Linked DNA regions of Homo sapiens. The protein of the gene in region 2 binds, or shares a complex with, the protein of the main gene of each other region. Each region holds a gene or a part of one and is shown on either strand. Other genes may lie near its edges. A codon is read from its position in the direction of its gene.

Region 1 (3,747 bases), on a different chromosome or scaffold from region 2:
TGCACAGGGCCCACAGGGTCCACACAGGCCCTACCCGGAGCCCCCAACTCACGGGTCCACACAGGCCCTACCCGGAGCCCCCAACTCACAGGTCCACACAGGCCCTGCCCAGAGCCCCCCACTTGGGTCCACACAGGCCGTGCCAGGAGCCCCCCACTCACGCTTCCATTCATCCAGTGTGCGGTCAACGTCGTCAAAGGAGTCATCATACTTCTGGACCTGGGGCTCATCTTCCGTGTCGTGCAGGGACTCGAAGTAGGGATGGGCCAGCGCCTCGCCTGCCGTCACCCGCTGCTCCGCGTCCAGCACCAGCATCTTCTCCAGGAGGTTCACAGCTGCGGGGGAAGGTGCATCAGGCCAGACCACGGGAGGCCCCACACTCCAGCACCCGGTGGCCCCCACACTAGCCAGCCGTACCCAGAGGGCTTGCATTGGTCAGGATAGAGGCAAAATCCTTCTTCTCCAATTCGGGGAGGCCCTTCATGTAGTTCTTGGCCTGTGTGGGAAGAAAGGGTGAGGGGCCAACACCAAGGCCCAGGTCCGCCCCCACCCCCACCCAGCTCCCCACTCACCCCTTACCTCATCGCTCTGCAGCCGCTGCACAAACTCAGCCGGAGGCGTCCCCGTCACCTTCATGATCTCCTTCAGCTGGTCCAGGTCTGCACCGAGGTCAGGAACACAGCTCGGGGGCCAGAGATCAGGGCCCCCACTGCCCCCACCTGGGCAGGAGCCATCCCCACCCGCCCCTGGTGCCGCCCTGCGGCTGGAGGATACGGTCGCTGCCCTTGAACAGCGTCTTGCCTGTGATCATCTCCGCCATGATGCAGCCCACAGACCAGATGTCCACTGAGATAGAAGCCCTGGTCAGCTCCGTGGGCAGGGGGACAGGATGAGACGGGGAGGGAGGAGACACCAACACAGCCCACCTGCCCGGCTCCCACCCCAGCTCAACAGCCTCCCTGGGAGCAGCCACCACAGGGCTGTCCGTGAAGAAGTGGAGAAGCAGATGGTGCAGCCTGAGAGGCCCAGATCTCTGGGCAGCTTCTCACCCGTCTGCGTGTAGCGCATCCAATTCAAGATGACCTCGGGAGCCCGGTACCACCGGGTCACCACGTACCCAGTCATCTCACTGTCTGCCTGCCTGGCCAGGCCGAAGTCCAGGATCTGTGGGAAGAATTGGGGAGGTGGGTTCTAGGGGACTCCCAAGGAGCGGACAGGCCACCCACGGTCCAGGAGACCCCGGGGGGTTGGACTTGAAGCTCCCAAGCTGGGGCCTCCTGACAACCTTCAAGGACTTGAGGCCACGCCCTCGGACCCCAAACTGCCCCGAGCTCCTCCCTCTGGCCAGTGCACCAAGCCCAGCAGCCCTCGGGACGGAGCAGGTGCCCTGGGTACGGCATGTTGTGTACCACTGCCTCTTGGGCTCACCCACCCACCAGCTCCTCAGCCACTGCCCAGAGCCTGGGACCTTGGCCCCCTGCCCAGGCCTGACAGGTGGATAGATGGGCAGATCCAGAGGGGGCCCCTGCCCCACCTCAGGGCCCCCTGCCAGGCAGCACACACCTTCAGCTCACAGTCTTCGTTCACAGCCAGGTTGCCGGGCTTCAGGTCCTGGGGGCAGAGGAAAGGTGGCCACTGTGCCCCACCCTCCCAAGCATGGGCACAGCCAAGAGCCTGGGTGGCACCTAAAGATGGGGCCACCGGACCTGGCCCCCTTGCTCTCTGCAGCCCTTCAAGGGCAGACCAAGGTACCTGGGCACCCAGGCAGGTTCCCACCAGGGGCTGTGCATAGGGCGTGGCTCAGCACCCAGACCCCATCACATCCTCACAGGTGGGACGTGGAGGCGGGGGGATTGCACTGGGGGAGGGCTGATGAGCGGCTTCTCCACCGGGACTCACTCTGTGGATGATGCCGGCAGCGTGGATATACTGCGGGGGGCAGAGGATTTGGCAGGCTTCAGCGCACCCTCTCAGAGCCACAGGGCCCTCCTCTGCCCAGCCCCGAGGCCCTGCCTGCCTCCCTGCAGCCTCCCCCGGGGCCCGTACCCTCAGCCCCTTCAGCATCTGGTACACGAGGAACTGGATCCGGTCCTCGCCTAGCTTCTCATGTTTCATGAGCTTGCCCAGGTCGGTGCCCATGAACGGCATCACCAGGTAACTGTGGGAGGGGCCGGAGCGCTGTCAGCGGACAGAGCCAGCCTCTGCATCCCAGAGACCCACCCAGCAGGCCCAGGCTCAGACCCGTCCCGGATCCAACAGGCACCCCCAGGAAGGTCACCCCTGCAGCACACATCCACACTGGCCTCGGTGTCCTCGCAGCCCCACCTTGCAGTGCCAGGCTCCATCCTCCCGCAACTGTTACTGCCAGCAGCGCTCACACCCCCCTCCCACCCTGAGGACTGTCAGGCAGGGAGGAGGCTGCCTTGGGGTTTTTGAACCCTCCGCTGAAGCGCCCTGCGTGCCAGGCTAGGGGCTGAGGCTCCATGGTAGAGGCAGCAGGACTCGAGTCTTCACAGGCAGGGGAGGGAGGCAGTCAGGTTTCAACTTCACAACTTTGTGCCAGAAATGAGGGAGGTGCCTGGGGGCGATGGGGGCGCGGCAAGGCATCTGGGTCAGAGGGGTCGGCTGGGCCGGTGGAGACAGACACAGGAGAATGGTATTTAGCACCTTCCCAGAGGCCACTGACTTGACCTCTGCAAGTCAGGCGGGAGGCGCCTGCTACCCTCTCCAGGCCTTCCTCGGCCTGGCCCTTCACTCTTGGCCGACAGGGTGTGAGTCCCAGGGTGGTCGGCTGCAGGGCAGGGGCAGGGTGGGTCCTCCCTACCGCTTCTCCCCCACCCGCTGGAAAAGGTCAGCAGCTCCAGTTACCGGCCACACACTTGGTGCCAGGGTCCCGAGCACGGGACCTTCCTGTTAACAAATGGTCAGGTCCAAGGTTCACACCTCCGGTGCTGGAGAGGGCCCAGGTGCCAGGCGTGGAGAGAGGCAGCAGCCCCAGCTCTGCCCAGCTGTGCCAGTGCCCGTGGGTCCCAGGACCATGTGGGGGAGGGCGTGGGGTGGACAGTGGTATGGGGAGGGGGTGGGCGGTGTGCATCCCCCACTCAGGCTGCAGGAAGAGAACCCCATTGCCAACCTAGAACCTGAAGCCAGTGCCCAGAGCTGCCCAACACCCCTCGTGCCCAGCGGCCAGCCCAGGTCGGCACTCACAAGTCCGTGAAGTCATCCAGGGTCTCATCAGGAGTGAATACGTCCAGCAGCCCGATCACCTGGGGGGGCCACATAGGGTTGAGAATGCAGCAGAGGACACGGGCTGGGGCACCCCCCAAGAGTGGCACAACCCTCTGGGCAGGAAACCCCCTCTGCAGCTGTCATTGTCATGCCCCACTGTCCAAAGGGCCTGGCTCTGCCCACTGGCAGTGTGGCCCAGCCCTGGCACACATACCCACTGGCAGTGTGGCCCAGCCCTGGCACACATACCCACAGAAAGGTTATTTTTGGACGGTGACAACCGGGATCTTCTGGGGGAGGGGCAACCCGGAGTCTGGGATGGCTCCGAACCATCCAAAGGGCTCCTGCCGCCTGACCCTTTCACCCCTCTTCACCCCAACCAAACAGATCCAGGCCCAGGGTGGGGACAGCGCTATGGAAAGAGGCCAGGCCTCTGCTGGTGAGGCCCAGGCGGACAGCACCGTGACCCACCAGACCTGGTCCCCTCAGCACCCCTGGTTGGGGAGATAGACAGTAGAC
Region 2 (3,747 bases):
GCCACTAGGAAAAGTGCTATAATGGAGAGAGATCTGGTGGCATGAACATTTATAGCAACAATTTAACTCAAGTCAGGAAGGTGAGCAAAGGCTCTGCAATCATGGAGCTGAGACCCACAGGATGAAGTAATCAGTGGGGAGGGGGAGAAGGTCCCAGGCTCTTGCAGTCCCTGCAGCAGGAAGGAGCACGGTGAGGTGAGGGCTCAAAGAGCATGAACATAGGGCCTGCAGGAGATGCTGAGAGATCAGCTTTGTCTTCATTTTGAGAAAAATAGGAGTGTATGGAAGACTCCCCCGTCTGTGGAGTAGAGAATCCACTGGAAGCAGGAGAGGGCATGTGCAGATCATGGCAGTGCTGACAGTGGACCAGCTGCTTTCAGAGAAGCATCATGCATAATTTTTCTTGTGTTCCCTGACACTTTATTTTCTACAAGAACCATGAATGCATTTGATAACCAGAGCAGGGGAGGGGACTCGGGGGAGCCAGTGGGGAAGACTGAGCTCAGAGGCCAACCTCCCCTCCCCAGGCCCAATGGTGGCTGGCGGTCAAAAAACAGCTGATGGAGCTGGTTGCTGCCTCCCTCACCGAGAACCTCTGGGCTAGCCCTTGAGCTGATGTGGCTGAGGGAGGTGACATGCATGGGCCAGGTCTCCAACCCCACTCCTACGCCAGGGGACCCTCATCAGCACAGCATTCAGGCAGCCATGGCCCCTGCACAGTCCTGGATGCTCCCTCTTGGAATATCCCTTCAGTCCTGAGAACCGGGACCTGTGGTCCTGGCTGAGGAGGGACCTTCACTCACCCACAGCGACTCTCAGCACTGAACACAGATCAAAGCACTTGTCTGGAGGGTCAGGGGTCTGACCACAAAGTGAGGGACCCCTTTTCTATGCCAAGTTTTGCCTTAGTTTTCCACATTAGCTCATTGACAACAGTCAACTTAAAGGGAATAGGTGCAATTATGATCCTCATTTTACAGGGTGGAAGTTGATTATACAATTTGGGTCATTATTGTAATGCCCAACTAAATCAGAGTTGAGAGGCCAGGGGAAAAATACTCAGGGCACATAACATTGCTCCAAAAATGTAATTCTCTGCAAGCGTGGCTGCTAAAACTGCCTGTTATAACCTAAAACCAGTTTTATTTAATAACTACTGAAACAAATTGCTGTGACCCTAAGACTAGTTTTATCTGCTACCATCATGCAACAATCAGAGCTTGCCAGCTCCCGAAGAGCTTCTCTAGTGCCGATGGACTTTTTTCAAAACAATACATAATATTTCTCATTCTAATAAAACTCCCAACATTCTCTTTGTTTTCCAAACCAAAGACCACCTAGTCTGTATAGATTTCCCAAATTATTATTCTTACTTCCCAAGCAAAATGTTTTAAATTTAGAGAAACATCTGTTTTTATATTTTATTTGACTTTGACAACAGATGATTTGTCTAGGCACAGACTTGGGTTCAAATGTTGGCTGCAGCCAGGCACAGTGGTTCACGCCTGTGATTCCAGCACTTTGAGAGGCTGAGGCAGGAAGATCAGTTGAGCCGAGGAATTCAAGACCAGCCTGGCAACATGGCGAGACCCTTTCTCTATATTTAAAAAACAAACAAACAAACAAAAACCAAAAAGACAAATCTCGGCTGCACTGCTTACAAACACTGTGCTCTTTGGTGGTTACTTCATCTCTCTGAGCCTCAGTTTTCTCACCCCCTCTGTAAAATGGGGCTGGAAGGAATCAGTCAGATTTTGAGGCTAAAATGCACTGTTTGTTCCCTATGGGGGCTCAGTAAAAAAAATTCACTTCACTCTACACTGCTTAAACATTTACTAAAAGCTTGTGTATCCTAACAGTAAATCATGGGACCTCAATTTTCCAGGACTATTCCAATTTCAAATCCTCTGTCCTAACTTTCCATATAAACCATCAAAATGTTTCAAAAATTCCACTCTCTCAGTATCCAAACACTTCTCAGGCCTCCTCTTGCACAAAGCAGTGGCACACACATTCTTTTTTCACACTACAGATCCCGTTCTTTGGTTCAGAAAACGCAGTCAGCACAGTCCTGCCGGTCCCCTAAAGGAAATGGGGTCAGTGCTCCACTGCAATTCAGACTGGGCTGTTTCCCGGCACATCTATGTAAAGGCAGCCAGGGGGAGGCCGGGCCACAATCAGAGCATCACCCACAGAGGGACATACACTGGGCAGAGGAGTTCAGCCCCCACCTACTTGTACCTGGGAGGCAGCCTGGCGACAGGGTTGCTGTGAAGATTAAATGAATTAAGTTACTATTTGGAGAGCACTCACAACAGTGTGTGGCAACCAATAAGTACAGATTAGTGCTGATAACTAAAACCAGAGGCATCCCTGCAGAAGTTACTCCTGCCTCAAAGACAACACAGTGGCATTGCTCCCATCCAGGTGAAAACAAGGAGAATAGGCACTTAGCCCTGGGCTAGGTGAGGCCTGGCCCATGTACAGAGATAAAGCAGACCCGAACCAGAGCAGGTGGGTTCTGCATTAGTGAACACCAAGAGGCTGGATTTGGCTGGGTGCGGTGGCTCACGCCTATATCTCCACACTTTGGGAGGCCAAGGCAGGAGGACTGTTTGAGCCCAGGAGTTCGAGACCAGCTTGGGCAACATAGTAAGACTTTGTCTCCACAAAAAATAAAAAATTAGCTGGGTGTGGTGGCACATGCCTGTAGTCCCAGGTGCGAGGTACAAGGAGGACTGCTTGAGCCATGATCGGGCCACTGCACTCCAGCCTGATGACAGAGTGAGACCTTGTCTCAAAAAACAAAAAAGACCAGGTTGGACTTGGAGAAGAATCACCACGCCTATGATCCACAAAGTCTCTTCATGCCTTTGCCCCTGCTGTTTTGCCTGCCCTAAATGCCATCTTGTTCCTAAGTTTGAGGCTTAATTCAAATTATGCCTTGAAGTTAGAACTAACTTCTCCCCATGGTTAGAACTACGCTCCACAGTGTCTCCTGATGCCCATCGGAATGAATGGCTGCATCCTCTGGTGTCTCTTGCACCTAGCTTATCCTTTTAAAGTACTTACAGGACCATGGACAGATGGATGGGGACGCACATACACATATACAAACTGTCTTTCCAAATCCACCATGAATCCTTCCAAGGCAGGGGTTCAGCGTTCACCTCTGTAGCCCTATGGCCTAATACATGGTAGAGACTCAATAAATGTCTCAATTTGCTGTTAAATCTGTGCTCACACCTGGTCTTGGAATAACAAGTTAACCTGGGGGCAGTGGGAAGCTTCAGGTGCACACACAAGCAGAAGCTCTGGAGATGCAACATTTCTGGGTCTTAGAACCCATTACCAAATCAGTTTTCAGCCAGGGGCTTACCAAGCACTTCTCAGGTCCTTCTCGGCCAGAGGAAAGAAGACATCTATAAGATCAGGCTCTGAGGTCACCTGGACCCAGCCAAGAGCAGTGTGGACACTGACCTGGTCTCCTCCTGTCTCTATTAGAGTTGGAATGAAGAGCTGATGCTGGGTAGGCTACTGCACCCCCACCAGCCCTTCCAGACCAGGGTATGTGCTGGGTGCCTTCAGCATTCCAGCTTCTACAACAGATCTTGGGAAAAGATAAAGAGGCATTGTCCCTGCTTTCCAGGACCGCAATGCTGGAAGGTGAGCTCTCCTGGGAAAAGATGTAGGGACCACAAATTGCTGGTCTTTTCTCAACCACCACAAACCCGGAGGGTTGGGGAA

What was found. The genes of interacting proteins can lie anywhere in the genome.
Region 1: the proteins of PTPN3 (region 2) and MAPK12 are in contact, whole or in part, in a crystal structure (PDB 4QUM), measured with the Homo sapiens proteins. Residues at the interface, in NP_002820.3 of Homo sapiens: Arg655, Leu671, Asn674, Arg675, Tyr676, Lys677, Asp678, Val679, Arg751, His812, Ser843, Ala844, Gly845, Ile846, Gly847, Arg848, Met883, Gln886, Thr887; in NP_002960.2 of Homo sapiens: Met182 (codon at 1,125), Thr183 (codon at 1,122), Gly184 (codon at 1,119), Tyr185 (codon at 1,116), Val186 (codon at 1,113), Val187 (codon at 1,110), Arg189 (codon at 1,104).

The regions. Positions count from the first base shown.
Region 1 is NC_000022.11:50,255,036-50,258,782, forward strand, and holds part of MAPK12 (mitogen-activated protein kinase 12), read right to left. Parts: intron 3,267-3,747; coding exon 3,208-3,266; intron 2,159-3,207; coding exon 2,047-2,158; intron 1,930-2,046; coding exon 1,900-1,929; intron 1,612-1,899; coding exon 1,564-1,611; intron 1,165-1,563; coding exon 1,050-1,164; intron 847-1,049; coding exon 775-846; intron 660-774; coding exon 580-659; intron 497-579; coding exon 418-496; intron 336-417; coding exon 162-335; intron 1-161. UniProt on the Homo sapiens protein: Serine/threonine kinase which acts as an essential component of the MAP kinase signal transduction pathway.
Region 2 is NC_000009.12:109,491,638-109,495,384, forward strand, and holds part of PTPN3 (tyrosine-protein phosphatase non-receptor type 3), read right to left. Parts: intron 1-3,747.